Regions from separate parts of the Homo sapiens genome. Here region 2 is linked to region 1. Evidence: fine-mapped expression QTL. Tissue or cell type: lymphoblastoid cells. Region 1 holds a variant in brackets; the other region holds the start of a gene. All regions are shown on one strand. Distances are between the middles of the regions.

Region 1 (8,104 bases):
TGCCTGGACTGAATTTTCAGGGCCTTCATCAGTTCCTTTTCTGTCCCCTGGAAAACAAACTGGGCCTCTCTTCCTCTCTCTCCCTCTCTTTCTCTCTCTCTCCCTCTCTCGTTTTCTCACTCTGGCTCACACACACACACCTTTTCTTGATTAGATCGTTACATTCAATCCTAGGTAGGTGTGCCTCTAATTTCGGGTCCCCAAGCATACACACCCCAGACCTCAGGGGACTTTGGCTTCCTGAGGTCAGGTCGGAGCACAAACAGATCTGAAACGCCGTTAGTCACATCATGGAAGGGAGTGAGTTGGGTGCTTCAGGTAGATCCAGAGTACACCTTGGCTCTCACTCGTTATTATTTCTTAACAGTGTGAAACCCCCAGGACATCCCGACAGCGTCTGTCCTGGGTGGGCCAATGTGAGCAGAGAGCACGGGCTTTGAGGCTGGAGCCCCTGCATTTGTATTCTGGCTCCACCGCCTACCCTGTCACCGTGAGAAAGCGGTTTGACTTCTCTCAATCTCCTTTTCCCCTAGGTAGGAAAGGGACAGTAATGGTCCTTAGTAGGACTGAATGAGATACTGTGTAGGCCCAGCACGGTGCCTGAGCAGATGAAAAACTCAATAACTCATAGTCATTCTTACTTTTAACAGCACTTCCATTATCATTGTTATCCTCCAGGTCAGGAGCCACGCTGGGCCTGCGGTGAATTTTCTTAGAGTAGATTTTTAAGGGAGCCGGTCCCCAGCTCTTTCCAGAATCCCCAGAAGCTATTAAGGTTGTCTGTGTACATCCAGTTTGCCATGTTTAGTTAAACTTTGAGGGACTCACGCCCCAGTGCAGCCCACGGGGTTTTTGCAGAGCTGATGACTAATATTTTGTAGAGAGTCTGATGACTCCAATACACCTGCCTTATGTCCCTGGGTCTGAAACAGCTTTCTTAATAGACTGAGAGATTCACTACAAGGACTCTCCTTTGTCAACATTTTACCAGCCCTGATGAAGGATTAAAAATTATGTTAACCAGCAGTTCTGACTTGGCTTCTGTCAGTCACAGCTTCGCATGGCTGCACTTGCTTCTCTCTTCCTCTTCCTCTTCCTGTCCCCTCTTTGCTGATCTGGACTCAGCCTGGTATTCTTGTCACAAGGTCATCGCCTAGGTGAGCTCAGCTCAGCGTGAAACAAAACAGCTCATCTGAAGGCACCACACAGTCCGTACTGGGAGGAGGGGACCCTCCTCAATCCCCTGCCTTCTCACAAGTGGGCTCTTTTGGTTCCATCTTGCAAAAGCTGGGCAGAAAGAATTTTAATCTGAGCTCTCGGAGCCCTTGGACACAGGGACAGCATGAACTGCCCCTAATTCCTTGGGTGCTGGGTGGTCTGCAATCACTCCCTCATAGCACTGTCTGAGGGCTGACCACTCAGCTTGCAAAGATATCTAGGCACAATTTGTTTTCAAAAGGCTTGCATGTTTGTTATTTTTTGAACTTTGGCTTTAGATCAGTTTGGGTGTTCTCCAGAGAACAGCCACTCTGCTTCGGCATTGAAGCGTTCTCTCACTCACGCTCTCCTCCCTACTCCCAAGTGTCTTGAATCACTGCTGCATTGCAGGTTCATGCATCTGGACTGTTTTCATGTTCTTGGGGCATGGCGTCTATTTTATAAACACACGGTCAGTTTACACTGCCTGGGAACTTAGGGGATTTCCTCTCTGTGGGAAACAGCTGTGAGGAGCTTGACCAAACTTGGCTTTGTGGAGAGTAAGACGTCGCCTCTGATCATCCACGTGGGGCAGCTGCACTGGCTGTGTTCCTGTTGTTATGCCTGAGGATTCTCCTAGAAATCTAAGCTAAGAAGGGAAGCTCATTATGCTCTCCTCCCTGGTTTCCAGTTTAGTTGTTCATGAGTGATTTTGCATATCATAAAACCCCATGTCTGTTCACCTTCACGCCGTCTGCCAGCAGCACCTTAAGCCATCTGACTGCTGTGGGACCTCTGAGGCCACAGAATTATGGCATCATGAAGCTGGAAGGGACTTTAAGAGAGCCATTCGCCCAACACATTAGATGAGCACTTATTATGTGCAAAGTGCTGTGCTAGATGCCATGGGTGAAGGAAGGTGAGAAAGACCCAGCCTCTGTCCTCAAAGAACTGACAGACTTTAGGCTTGGCCATCATCATCACAAAGCATTCTGTGACCTTCTTCTTCAGGTGGGCTCAAGGTGTCCTCCTTAGTTCATGCCCCCTGCTGAGCACTATCACAGCACCTCCTATGCTGCAGTGAAGTGATCCTCATGTCTGTCTTCCGCATAGAATGTGAGCTTCCAGAGGGCGGGACCAACGATGCTGGGTGACATGGAGATTCTGCAGCGCCTATCATAAGGTTTTCATAAAGGGGAAATAAGATTAAGAGTAGAAACACTCTATTTACTAGCTACTTAGGCTAACCACCAAAACCAGAGGAGGTTGGTAGCTCCCTGAAGCAGAAAGAACTAGAGAAGCCAAAGGGATACCACCAACCTTGAGAGTCCATGAAGAAGCTGGGAAAACCGGAAGCATCTAAGCCACCGTTCTCTTGGCCCTTCTGCAAACCCTCTCTGCCACGTCTGCAGGAGTTTGTTTTAGTTCACTAGGGCTGCCAAAACAAAGTACTGACTGGATGGCTTAAAGAACAGAAATTTACTTCCTCACCATTGTGGAGACTGCAAGTCCAAGGTCAAGGTGTCAGCGGGGTTGTTTCTTCTGGGAGCTCCTCTCCTTGGCTTCCAGATGGCCGCCTTCTCTCTTTGTCTTCATATGGTCTTCCCTCTATACCTATCTGTGTCCTAATCTCTTCTCATAAGGACACCAGTCATATTGGATTAGGGCCTACTCATATGACCTCATTTTACCTAAATAACCTCCTTAAAGACCTTATCTCCAAATAGAGTCATATCCTGAGGTACTGGGGATTAGGAAGTCAACCTATAAACTTGGAGGAGAAGAAGGAGGCTGCACAATTCAGCCCATGACAGAAGTTAACACTGATGCTCAGAGAAGTGCCAGTGAGTCCCTGATAAAAGCTACAGCCAATCAGTTCAGGAACCAAGAATTAGGCCTGTAACTGCCTTCCTTCTTGGCTGACTGACAACCCTAGAGATACAAAGCTTCATCCAGCACTGGTAACCGAACTTAACTCTATTTTGCCACCACCACTTCCTGTACGTGCCCCTCGCCCCTTGGCCTCCCCACAGCACTGGTGCTACCTGAGGTGTCTGTATTTGAGCCAAAGGCAAGAGAAGGTGTCAATACGGAAGAGAGAAAGAAACATGTCTCCCTTGGGACTAGGGTGGGAAATGACAAGGATGGAGGCAACTTCCAAGGAGAACCACTGGCTCGCTTCCCAAGCTCATAAGCAGAACATAGAAAAAAGGTCCAAATGCCCTGGCTAGATGGAAGAGAGCCAAGCCACCAGCAAGTACCAGCAGCGGGTCTCTGACTGCCAGCCAAGGCCATGGCGCTGCCAGACAGGAACTGACATGGAGCAGAGAGAGAG[G/T]CCTGGCAGCGGGATGGCTTCACCCTCCACACAGCTTTTGCTGTTGGCTTCTGCAGGGTCATGAGTCCTCAGCAGCCTCAGTTCCCAGAGTCACTCTTCACTATTGGGTGCCAGTTGGCTAAGTGCCATATTGGAAAAAGAGTACGGGATGTGAGCTTCTAGATGAACCAACCCATTATAATCAGACTTGGCTTAGTTTGGCCACACATTGCCAAGACAGGAGGGAGGTGTTGCTGACTCAGCACCAGGCACCCAAGGACAGGCAGGTCCAGAAGTGGCTTGAGGTAAAGGAATCTACAATGGACAACTGTAGTGTCCTAGAGATGCCTAGGGTCCAGCCATTAAGCTGTAGTCCAGTTCTCTCGGCAAAGGAAAGTTCACAGTCTATCTTCTCAGCTGCCCCTGAATCCAAGTCTCAAGGTGCAAAGTCCTGGAGGACTTGCAGACACCAGCTGCTGGCTTGTCCAGGAGATATTAAAGTTTCCTTTAAAATCATCCCAGCAGTCCAGATGACCTGCTCTTCAACCTCATCCTGAAATTGCATCCACAGCAGGGTAGACCAATCTGAGCAGCCAGCTCTGGAAGTGAAACTGAGGAGATCATAGCCAACAATCCTCCTTGGACCAGGTGGCATTCTGGGCTTTGCCTGGAGAAAGCCACATTTTTTACACAAAGACCAAAAGACCAAGGATCAGGAGGAAGAAGGCAGTGGGCATGGTAGGGTGTGGACTCTGCCTTAGCAGAGACTCTGGGGGAGATAAAACAGGGGGAGATGAGACCATGATCATCTCACAAGAGTTAAGCCTCAAAAGTCACAGGAGCTGTATGTAGAGCTACTTTGCCCACCTGTGGTTCTCCCCTGTAATGGGTAAGAACAAGAAACAGCATTCAACAGTTTGAGACACAGTTTGTCTAGTAGAATGCCAGAGGGATTGCAGTAGCAACCTGGTGACCCCGTTCATTCATGCATTCATTCAACACATTTTTATTGAGCACCTAATTTGTGCCAAGCATTATGCTGAGTGGTTGACAGGATAAAAAAATAAACTAACAGGCCTTACCCTCATGAAGCTTACATTCTAGCAGAGAAAAATGAATCAATTATACAATTCAAAACACTAATAATTGTAATAAGTGCTACCAAGGACTTTGAGAGTACATGATGGAACACAATCTTGGAGGTCCCAGAAGGCTCCTTTGGGAAAGGGACACCTAGGCTAGTCCCTAAAAGGTGAGAGTAAATTACCTAGAAAAAAGGATGGGATAGGGATGGGAAAGAACATGCCAGGAAAAAGGAGTAACTTATGCAAAGGCCTTAAGGCTGGAGAGAGCGTGACAGAATCAAGGAACCAAGGTCCCAAGTGGCTGGAGTCCAGAGATTGGTGTGCAATGGATCTCAAGAGCCTAGCTCTCAGAGAGGGCACCTCATATAGGGCCTCGTAGACTATCTAAAGGGTTTTTATCTCTAAGAGCAGCCAGAGCCATAGAAGGGCTTGGGGGAGGATGAGATGGCATAATTAGCTATGCTGACCTGAGCATTCAGCCCTCCCCTTTACCTAATGTTGCCTCCATACAAAGGAGGAGACCTGGCTTTGTGTCTGAGTTCATCATGATCTGAAAAACTCCAAACTGGATAATTCATGAGAGCTACTTTGCTTCTAGCAAGCACAGCTAGTCAACCGATTTGCAAAGACAAAATTTAGGTTTGCACGTGTGTTTCCCGAAGGGCAGGATGTCCCTGTGGGCTCCCATCTGGCTACCAATTAACTGATGTCTGCACCTTAGAGGCATAGACCTGCCCAGCTTGCAGGAAAGAGAAAATGGGGCTAACTTCCCCAGCAACACTATAAACTAAGGCTTACAAAAAGTAGAAGGCGGCTGGGCGTGGTGGCTCACACCTGTAATCCCAGCACTTTGGGAGGCTGAGGCAGGTAGATCACAAGGTCAGGAGTTCAAGACCAGCCTGGTCAAGAGGGTGAAACCCCATCTCTACTAAAAATACAAAAATTAGCCAGGCATGGTGACAGGGGCCTGCAATCCCAGCTACTCAGGAGGCTGAGGCAAGAGAATCGCTTGAACCAGGGCAGCAGAGGTTGCAGTGAGCCAAGATCATGCCACTGCACTCCAGCCTGGGCAACAGAGTGAGACTCCATCAGACAAAAAAAAAGGCAGAAGGCATGGCAGGTCACAGCAATTTTTCGTGATACCATTGAGACCAAGCTCACGGGAATCAAAAGGGCCCAGAAGTTGCTGGAGAGCAAGTCAACCTCTCCCTATCTCTGAAACTCAGGAAAACAGTCCCTTCTCTATGCACCAAGAGAGAATCTCTAATCTATCATTCCAATAGGATTCTCCTAAACTGCTTCAAGCCAGTCTGTTTTTTTATCCCAAAACAAAAGGATGCAGGGGAGGGTCTTCTGGTCTCAGCGACCTTCACAAGGGAGCCCCAGCAAATCGTTCCTCCAGCTCTGAGCCAACCGTGCACCAAGCTCAATCTCAACCTAAATATTCAAGGCACAAAAATTGATCATAGAGGTCCCCAGTAAGGGCAGAGTGGTTCTGAAAAAGACCACACTGACACACTTCTGCTGGACTTCCTCTCATGCTCATGAGAAATGGCTGCTGTACGTGGCCTCTGAGACCACCCAGGTGCCCTCCTGCTGGACACTCAAGATGGACATTCACAGTGCTCACCCCACCCTGCCACCCCAAGAGTCCTGGAAATGCATGTGCACACAGGCCTTCATCGCCCTAATGCTCACATGGCCACCAAGCGCAGGCTGGAATAGAAGGATGTGTCCTTTGACCTTTTTGTCCTCTCTTCCCAGACCGAGCCTGGGCATCAAGTGCACAGGAAGACAGTTAACCTGAATCACCACGTGGAAACACTCCTATATAGAACCTTTGTGCCTCAGGTGCAGAGGATCAGCCAGGGACAGGACAGGGTGACTCCCGAGGCCAGAAACAGGACAAGGTCCCTCCCCTGCTCAATAAGAATGGACACGAGACACCCATAGGACACACTCAGGAACTCCAAGTTCTGTCTTGGCCTCCCCCATCCCCAGCTGGCAGCCAATCCCCAAAAGCAGCTGTGGGTGGAGAGGGAGGGCAGTTTTGGATTCTATAGACTATAAAGCAGGTGCTGTGGCAGCTTTGGTCTTAGTAAGGCTGCACACCTCTCTGTTTTCCCCCACCTTAGTGAGACTCCCTGTGTCAGGACATTGGTGCATTTTCTCCCCCATGCACTGGACACAGTGCATTTCCATTTCTTTTCCAGGTGGGGACCCTGTAGCCAGTGACTCCTGACCTGGCTGCTCCTCAGCAGACACCTCAGGTTCCTCCTGCAGAAGAGACCCCTGTTGGCCACTCCTAAGCCTTCCTCAGGTGCCTAGATAGCCCCTCCACCCCGAGTCAGCAAGAAGGGCCACCGCAGTGACAGAGCTCCCCCTACTGAGAGCTCGCTGTGGTGGCGGGCCCGGGAGACCGAATGAGGCACTCTCTCCCCTAGAAATTAGATTCTGGGAACATCTTCCAACTCTCCCCCAATCCACTGCTCCCAAATAAGGGCAGCATTATCTGGAAGATCCTAAGAATCAAATCCTTTTACATCAGTGCCATATCTCCATTGTCAAAACTTGAAATAACTCCCAGGACAGGCCCTTAGCCCAGCCTGGGCCAGACTAATGGCATGTGTTCCAAGGTCCCCACTGCACCGATCTCAAAGCATCATGTGCACCAAACCATTCAGTTAAGCATTCCTACTAACTACCTCCCAGAGAGCTGGCCTACCCCTCCCCAAAGGAATTCTTAGACACCTTGCCCACCCTTACACCACAGGCAGCTGAGCCCAAGCTGACAACTTCCAAAGGACCTGTCGATATCAATGACAATAAATAATAATATAACATGCTTGGTTCTCAAAGTATATGACATTCATTTAATACACAAAAACAATGCCACCACCCTCAAAAAATAGATATCACCATCAGATGAGGAAATTAAGGCATAGAAAGATGAGAGACATGCCAGGATGAAAACTCAGCTCCTTACACATAAAGACCACTTTCTGGAGGAGCTGTGAGCTGAGGACTGTTAAGACGAAAGGACATTGGAACCAGGAAATCTCCGAGGCCTGAGCTCCTTTCAGGGCCCTGCCAGAAGAGGAGGCCGAGAAAGCCAGACCTCTCCCTCCCCAGGTGCTAAGTCACCACAGAGACCCTCCCCAGGTCACCACAGCCTTAGAACCACCACCACCAGTGGTGACAGAAGCCTCATGGAGGAGCAAAATAGGTGAAGGGAAATGAGCACAGGCTCAGAGGCTTGACCAGCCTCTCCCATCCTGCCCATCGCAAGAAACATGTTCTTCAGAGAGCTCTTAGCTAGAGAAACACTAAAGGCCCTCACAGGTTCATCTTTAGGGCATCTCCCATCCACAGCCCAAGTCGATACAATCCAGTGCCCCAGGATACTGAGAGTGACACGGATAGATGATGCTCAATTTGGGAAGCAGCAAGGGCAAGGAAAGCAAGGAAACTAGCCTGGGCTCTAGAGCTGGATGACTTACAAAATGTT
Region 2 (8,104 bases), 120 kb before region 1:
TGAATTATCAAATGCTTGCTCCCCATGGAAGCCTCTTAAGGAAAAGTTAAAACTTTGAATATGTCTTATGGGAAGAGACTGACGTAGCACAAATCATTAAAAAACCTTCACCTAATTGTCTTCCTGGTCATTTTCATATGGACCAAATGTTCACTCTAGGGCCCAAAAAACATTTGTTTCCTGCATGTATTCAATCTTCTGGAACTTGATATTTCCCACGAGGTTTGGTAACAGTGTCCCAAAGTCAAGGTGACAAAAGAACTTTGCATTAATAAAGACAATTTCGAGCTGTAGTCAAATTTGGAGGGAATAAACTACCCCTTTTCCTTATACTGAAAGTCTTTTAATATGCCTGTGCCTTAGTTGAATAAAATCTCCTACGTGGGGGGGAGAAAACAATGCTCTGCAGTGTCATTTGCATACAAGACTGCCAAAATTTTTCAGTCAAAATATTCGTTTAAAACTTTAAAAAGAAATCTATTCCATTTCCATCACTTTGGGTATGGACTGGGTATAAGAAGGTTAAGGTCAAATACAGGATTTCTGAGGTCAATGGCAAGGATAGCCAGAGATCTGAAAAACAGTGATATATGAAGAACTAAAGAAACTGGATGAGGAGTCTCAAAAGGAGAAGGCTTGGGGTGAAGATGGGATGGGCATAACTTCTTCAGAGTTAGTACTGGACCTGGTCAGAGTAGCTAATCAGTATATGATTGTTGAATGAATGAATAAACCAATTAATGAACTAAACAAACTCACAATAGAAAAGCAGTAGTACAGAAGTAGGAGAAGAGAGTAATTGATAGCAGAAATCAAGGTTTACTTATTTTTGTACTCCTGGTACTTGATACCATGCCTAGTGCATAGTTGGTGCCCAATTAATACATGATTGGATTATAGCATAATCACTGATCACTACATTTAAAGCAGTCCAATAGTGGAACAGGCTGCCTCACAAATAGTGAGCTCTCGTTTCCTCTACACAGATTCTACTATGGGCCAGGATCTCAGCCAAGCAGTGGAGCCAGAGGCTGGACAGACACAAGCAGAGATTTTGGAAAAAGACTGAGTCCCTCTCAGCACTTCAAAGATCCCTTCCAACACCCAAACATCAAAAGCCATGTTATATTGCCAAGCAAGGGTGCCTATGAACGCCTGTTGAAACCCCACAACAATTTTTTCAGCCATTTATTAAAACCCCAAAGAGACTATCAGGACTTCAGGGCAAACATCCTAGAGATAGCAATGCCCCCAGCAAGAAGAAAAGAGTTCTCAGTCTGAGAGGCACAAACTGTAATCAGTGTAATTAACAGCTTACCCTCACCTCTAGCCAGGCGTTTCTTCAAGATTCTAGTGTTTCCAGTCCTTACAGAACATTCTCAAGTCAGCAGGCTACACTGTCTTAGTGTCCTTGTACAAACTGATGGTAAAACAGATAGCACCCCAAAATATTTCCACATGCACAAACAACCTTGAAACGTGTGTTCGCATATCTTACAAGCAGGTATTTTTCCAATGCCACTCACAGCCTATTAGTGGGTCATTAAATTAACTCAGTGACTCCCAACCAACATATATTTCCCATAAATAGAATGAAATGGAAAAGGTGGACTAGAATAGAAAATATCAGAGTGCCTGACATATGTAGGTATATCTTGTTTCATGAAAAGTTTGTTTTAGAAATATAAATGTTGTTATAGATACATGTGAACATGTAAAATGGATTTCTTATTGTAGGTTAAAGTCCAAAAAGTTTAAAAGCTTCTTGTAGAAAAGATCAGGAAGACAACATCAGTAGTTAAGAGCAAAGGCCGGGCATGGTGGCTCATGCCTATAATCCCAGTACTTTGGGAGGCCGAGGCAGGCAGATCACAAGGTCAAGAGATTGAGACCATCCTGGCCAACACGGTGAAACCTCCTCTCTACTAAAAACACAAAAATTAGCTGGGCGTGGTGGTGCATGCCTGTAGTCCCAGCTACTCAGGAGGCTAAGGCAGGGGAATCACTTGAACCCAGGAGGCAGAGATTGCAGTGAGCTGAGATCATGCCACTGCACTCCAGCCCGGTGACAGAGTAAGATTCCATCTCAAAAAAAAAAAAAGCCAGGGCTTTGGAGTTAGGCCTAACAAAGTCTGAATCCTAATTCTGCTACTGATATACTCAGTGATCTTGGCATGCCACTTATTCCTCTGAGCCTGTTTCCTCACCTGTGGAATGTGAATGCTATACAATATAGCACCTGATGTCCAGTAAACAATAATGAGTCTCCTATGAAGTCTTCTCTGAGTCTCCTATGAAGAACAGCCAATGCTGTGGGTACCTGGGGTCTCAGGGTTGCTCTGGGCCTGATCATCCACTCAGATCTGTAAGGAGGATTTGCAGGATCCATTTAGAAAGATCCTCCCTTACTTCCACAAGCATGGCCTTTGGCTCTTAAATACCTGTGCTGGGGTTTTGTAATTATAGAAACAACAGGAACCAAAACTCATTAATGTTGAGCTACAAACCAGAGGGAAGCTTCTTTCTCAAAACAGGGCTCAGGCCTAGAAAAATCTAGTTTTCTGAAATCGCTAGCCAGCAACAGCACTGAGATGGCCATCCCAGAAACAAGGCCAACACAGAAGCACCCATAAAGGCTGCTGGAGGTTGGGACAAAGAGATCCTTGCTGTCCTTACAGACCCCCTGACTTCCAAGGAGCTCCCCTCTCACCCAGCCTGGCCTGCCTTCTCCACAGGGTAGCTGATCGTCAGCATCATCTTCAATGGTGTTGTCAAGAGCACTCAGTGCTCCTGCCATCCCTGTCCATCTCCACATGAAAGGAGAGGTTAGCACTCCAGCCTGGGCGACTGAGCAAGACTCCATCTCAAAAAAAAAAAAAAAAAAAATAGAAAGGAGAGGTTAGGAAGGAGATGAAGCCTGAAAGCACTGGGAGGACACCCCAGCATAGGGGAACACAGAGACACGTGAAGCCAGGGAGAAAACCAGTAGTACAGATAAGAAATGGAAGAAAGCAATGACAGGAAGAGAGACAAAGAAACACAGAAAGAAATAAACAAAAATGCAACAAAGAAGGTTTTTAAAAGCAAATCAAAAAATAAGAGTATAACAAAAAGGAGGAGAGCAGCGAAGAAAAGAAGTAATGGAAGACGCTATGAGGACAAGAGACCATCCCTAGATTCCAAGCTGCTTGGTTCACTGTTCCTTCAGAGGGGGCAAGGCCTAGGCACAGCGAGGAAGAAGGCATGCAGGGAGGGGAGGTGCCATCTCCACCCCCATTGTCCTTCCCCTCCTCAGGTCTGGTCCATCAGGGAAACCTAGGACACAGGCTCAGGGGCATTTGTAGAAAGAAGTTCCAGAAGCTGTCAGATTTCAATACATCCATCCTGCCCTCCACTGCCAGGTGCCACCTCAGGTGTTCCCAGGCCTGCTCCTCTCCCCCAGAGATGTGGCTTCAGCTGCCAAGCAATTCCTATCAGTCTTGTCATTCTCAGTTGCCCTTTCCCTAAGCTCTGTGTGTTTCCCTCTGTATTTGACACATTTGGGGGCACCCCAATCTTTTTCTTGAGGCCTCTGGGGCTAAACTACACTTTTTGCATTTCTGAGAACTCAGAGAATAAACAGCAGAGGCCTAAAACCATGGACTGGTCTTGAATCCTGGAAATATCTTGGTTATTTGCAAAAGGAACCTCACCATGCCTCTCTCTTCTCTTGCTGTCCCCTTCTGTGGAGGGGGCGGGTGGCTATGAGAGGACTTGGCCTGGCACTCTCTCCCTCTGTGGACCATTCCTGTCTCCTCACCTTCCAAATCACATGGAAGAGGCACAGTAAGTACTCACAGAAGATGACCCAGTAGAATCCCAAGTCATTAGTGAGGGGCTTGGGCCTGGACCAAGGGGGAAGCCTGATCCCAAGTCCCTCCCCCTTCTCACCCCAATGGGAGAAGGCTTGAACCTAAGTCCACATCCTTTCAGTTAAAATGAGCAGGAGCCAAACTTGTCATTGTTTCCTAACATGTGCTCCTACAGCAAAAAGGCAGGGGTGGCTCTAGAAGGCGAAAAAGCAAAGAGGGCACTTCGCAGTGCGGTGGTGAAACCCAGAGTCAGAAAGTCTCCAGAGGATGAGGCTCCTGGCATCCCCAGCTCTGTGGGGAGGAGGAAAGGGTCTTAATGGGCAGTCATTCTGAGCAGAAACCCCAGTGTCGGGCCCAGGAAGAGCGGGATGAAAGGGGGAGGGAAGCCCGCTGGTAGCCAGGCGGAGCCAGAAAAATAGGAGGTGCAGAGCGAAGGCCTCTGCTAGGCCGCTGGCCTGCCACCTGGGCCCAGAGCGACTTCTTGCTGTGCCACACCCACTAGCTGCCATGTTCATTCCTCAAAACCTGAGATTTCCCCTCAAAACACAGATGGGGGATGCGGGAATCAGTCTGGCCAGCCAGTCTGGCTCCGGTGTTCATGGCCAGGGCAGCCTAAGTCACTCATGGCTTCTTAGCTGCCCTGAAGGCTGAAATACAGAGCATCTTTGAGGACATCTGCTCTATCTGTGGGAAGGAGGACAAAATGCTCAAACTATAATAAAAGCAAGGGCCAGGACCCAAAGGGGTCTCACTCCCTGTTTCTCTGGACTCTCTGTGGGGTGCCTGTGTGCAGGATTTCTGCAGAAGATAGTCCATTTTGTTAAGCCTTTGAATATTCAAATTGAAAGTATCGCGCAATCATTGATTGTCAAATCATGGGTTTCTAGAGGTTTTAAATACTTGGCATGAGGGGGAAAAAACTCAAACCTATACCCGAAGGTATAAAACATTAATTCTGTTTGTCTCCTGTTCCAGGGACCTGGGTGCAGCCGGATGCTTTGTGAAATTTTAAAAATGTTGCATCTCTGCTTCTCTCCCTGCCCCAGGAGCCCTCCCAGGCGCTGAGTCCCTGCTGCTGCAGCATCCAGCCACCGACCCAGCTCCTGCTGACCACGATGTCGGGTAACTCGGCTGCTTCTCCTAGGGTCGGGTCAGGCGGGCCAGGGGCATTTCAATCCGGGTGTGTTTCCACGGCTTTTCCTGCATAGAACAGAGAGGCACAAAGTCAAGGCATGCGAGTAAGGGCCGGGGATCCGGAGAGGACGCGAGCCACGCTGTGGCCGCTCCCACTCAGCGCCTGTCCCGGAGGGCAGAGGCCCAGAGGCCGAGTTGGCCGCTCCGGACGTCCGCGTACCCCAGGCCCCCGCCCGCCCTCCCACGTATCCACTGTTGTGTCCTGAGACACGCGGTGCGGACCCTGCGCGCCCAGAAGCTGCTACGGGGGGAGCTAGAGGCTCACAGTGAGCCTGGGACGGGGGCAGAGCGCACCGACTGCACTGAGCCGAGCTGTGGCGGTCCCTGCGCGGACCCCGAGGGGCGCCCGCTGCCCGCGGAGTCCGGAGCCGATCGGGGAACGGGGTGGTGGGGCTGCGGTAGGCTGGAGCGCGGAGAGGGCGCGGCGCCTGGGCCCTGCGGGCGGGGCACGGGATTCCCTGGGTCCGGGCTAGGAAGAGCGCAATCTCCTTTCCTGGGGAGACCCTAACTCCTGGAACCCGGCTTGAGGGGGATCCCTGCTGTCCAGCTGCGGTCCCCGCAGTGACCAGGCGAGGCGCTGGCATCCTGGCACTATCTCCAGGCGTCCAGGCTGAACGCGCGGTCACCCTCGGCCGCCGCACCCAGCGCACTTCCCGGCGCGATTCCTGGACGCACACTGCAGGGTAGTGGTCAGGGCCGGAGCCGCCCCGGACTCCTGCGGCCACCTCCACCTTGAAAGCTCGCCCGGCTCGGCTTGGCCTAACAGCCAGTCCCCAACCTACTCACTGCGGCTTTTCGGGGCCCGGGGCTGAGGCTGCCCCTGCTCCCAGCGCTCAGGGGTCCCTCCCAGCGAACCCCTCTTGAGCGCGCCCGCCACCTCCCGCGAGCCGGGGCAGTCCGACCGGGCCCCGCCAGCCCCGGGGCGGCCCCTACCGAAGGGCGGCCTCCCGGCGGAGTGCAGGGTCATCGGGAGCCCCGGACGGCTTTCCCCAGCTCGCGCTGCGCGGACTCGCCCCGGAGCCTCAGTGCGCCTCGGAGAAACGCCTGCCCCAGAAAGGGAGGGGGTAGGGAGAGAGGGGAAGAAGGGGAGAGTAGGAGCGGGGGCGAAGGAGGGAGGAGGGCAAGATGGAGCGCGGAAAAGGCGGAGAAAAGGGACGAGGGAGAGCGGGCAGAAGGCAAAGACAGAAGGGAGCGAGGGAGGGAGTTCCTCGGGCCTGGCCCCTTTACTAGGTCAGTCTGGCAGGTACCTCGCCGGCCCAGGACGGGGCTGGCCAAACCTCACCGCTTGCTCCCGGGCTGGCTTCCAGACCAAGGGCACGCAGAGGTCGGAGCCTGCCCAGAAGCCACACCTGGCCAGGCGGAGAAGGAAGGGACTCGGGACTTCCATGCTAGTGGGAACATCACAGTGGGGTGGGCTACGTCAGCCGCCATAATCAGAGAAAGCCCCCTGCCCCAGGCCTGGCCCCTCCCCAGGTCCATAATACCCTCTCTCTCGGCTGTCTGGGTCTGAAAGCCAAGGTTCCCCCGACCTAATCAGAGTGGTGGGCTCCGCTGCACTGGTCTCCATATTCCAGAGCAGAAAAACCCGTTTGCTATTGGCCTAGGACTGAGGCCCAGCCAGGGGTGGATGGCCCCACAAATTTCCACGGATTCTTTTCCTACTGGGGCTCTGAAACCTGCTCAGCTACTCTTCATTCTTTCAAGTTTGAAATGTTTGGGTTTTTACCATCCTTTGACATTTTTTGTGTGTGTTCTCCGAACTTAGAAACTTGGCTTTGGGTGCCATAGCCTATAAAAGGGGCCCCCACTCTGCACCCTGGCACCCAGACCTTGGACTCGACCACTGACTCAGTTGCCTTTCTCCAGAAAAACCGAAGGTGTATCAAGGTGTCCGAGTGAAGATCACAGTGAAGGAGCTGCTGCAGCAAAGACGGGCACACCAGGCGGCCTCCGGGGGAACCGTAAGCATAAGCCCTTCCCTCATTCCCCAGCCCATGCCAGGCCTCTTTCAAAGCTGTGTCTGCAAGGTGTGGAGGCCACTCAAGGCCCCACGCACTCACCATTCCCAGACCTGGCCTTCCTCTGCTGTTCCTATGACTTCTGTACCCAGCTGCATCCCAATCGGGAAGCTACAGAGGACAGCTGGGGCATGTTGTGGGGCTCAGGATTTGGGGGAGCCCATCCATCCCCCATGGGTGAAAGTAAAGTATAAAAAGTGCGTTGGTCCTCTGCAGGGGGAGGAGCGGCCAGCAGGTAAGTATACATCGTTTTGTTAGGAAGACAGTGGATATATGTACAGCCCTTGCAGACCCATAGAAAATCTCTCCCAGAAATTCACCTCATTTTAGGGGCCCCTTCCAGGATAGCATCTGTGTGGAACATCCTCCCTTCCCTCCTCATTCTTCTGGAACTCACCCTCTGAGATCATTTATCTGTAAATCATCAGTTACCTAAAGTATCTAGCAGAAAAGGGCCCTGTCTCTGCAGAAGAGACAGCTGGAGTACAGGACCACTTCCCTAAAATGTATCAACACCTTAAGCAGTTTCAGGTTATTACAAAATTGAACTGAGCAGTCATAAGGGTATACCCTGACACTTTATACACCTTCCTACGGTAAGTACTGCCAAAGGCACTCAGGGCAGCAACAGAACCAAATAAACTAGGTGGGGTTATTGCCCAAGAGAGGGCAGCTCATCCCTAAAAAGCCTCAATCATACAATTGCTTGGGGGTTGGTTTGGGTGTGAACATAGGATCTGACAGCTGGGGCTCATATTGCCTCTGTTAGGATTGGTCCTTCTCCAGCCCATTGGCATCTGCCCCACAACAGTTTTTGTGCCTGATGCTGTTCATGTGCAATGTGTGACTTCATGAAATAGGCCTTTGACAGCGGGACTTCTTGAAATGGGAGGGGGCAAATGATGTAGGGGAGGTAAACACAGGTTCCAGAACCAGATGGACTGGGCTCAGATCTCAGTTCCTCCATGGTGTGTATCCTCAAGCAAATTACCCAATTCCTCTTGCCTCTGTTTATTCGTCTTCAAATTGGGGATGATAGGA

Alleles and levels. Alleles are on the strand shown, and positions count from the first base shown. SD is a standard deviation of normalised expression in the study named.
As copies of T replace G in region 1, the expression in lymphoblastoid cells of the gene that starts at base 4,931 in region 2 goes up (moderate effect, 0.73 SD a copy in CAP).

What was found. PIP is the estimated chance that this variant, and not a neighbour inherited with it, causes the effect.
Region 2: POU2AF3 starts here. The variant in region 1 is fine-mapped to the expression of POU2AF3 in lymphoblastoid cells (CAP, PIP 0.95).

The regions. Positions count from the first base shown.
Region 1 is chr11:111,416,225-111,424,328 of GRCh38, forward strand. It overlaps LOC100132078 (a long non-coding RNA gene), which reads right to left and starts at 1,962. Exons shown (of 4, transcript NR_046085.1): 1 at 141-1,962. It also overlaps a transcript of BTG4 not described here. RefSeq lists a silencer at 318-367 and enhancers at 588-657, 1,708-1,817. The variant G/T (reference allele first, on the strand shown) is at 3,533.
Region 2 is chr11:111,293,616-111,301,719 of GRCh38, forward strand. POU2AF3 (POU class 2 homeobox associating factor 3) reads left to right here and starts at 4,931. Exons shown (of 5, transcript NM_001271458.2): 1 at 4,931-4,973; 2 at 6,912-7,006. The coding sequence starts at 4,967. It overlaps COLCA1 (colorectal cancer associated 1), which reads right to left. Exons shown (of 2, transcript NR_169237.1): 2 at 1-5,051. RefSeq lists a silencer at 5,871-6,070.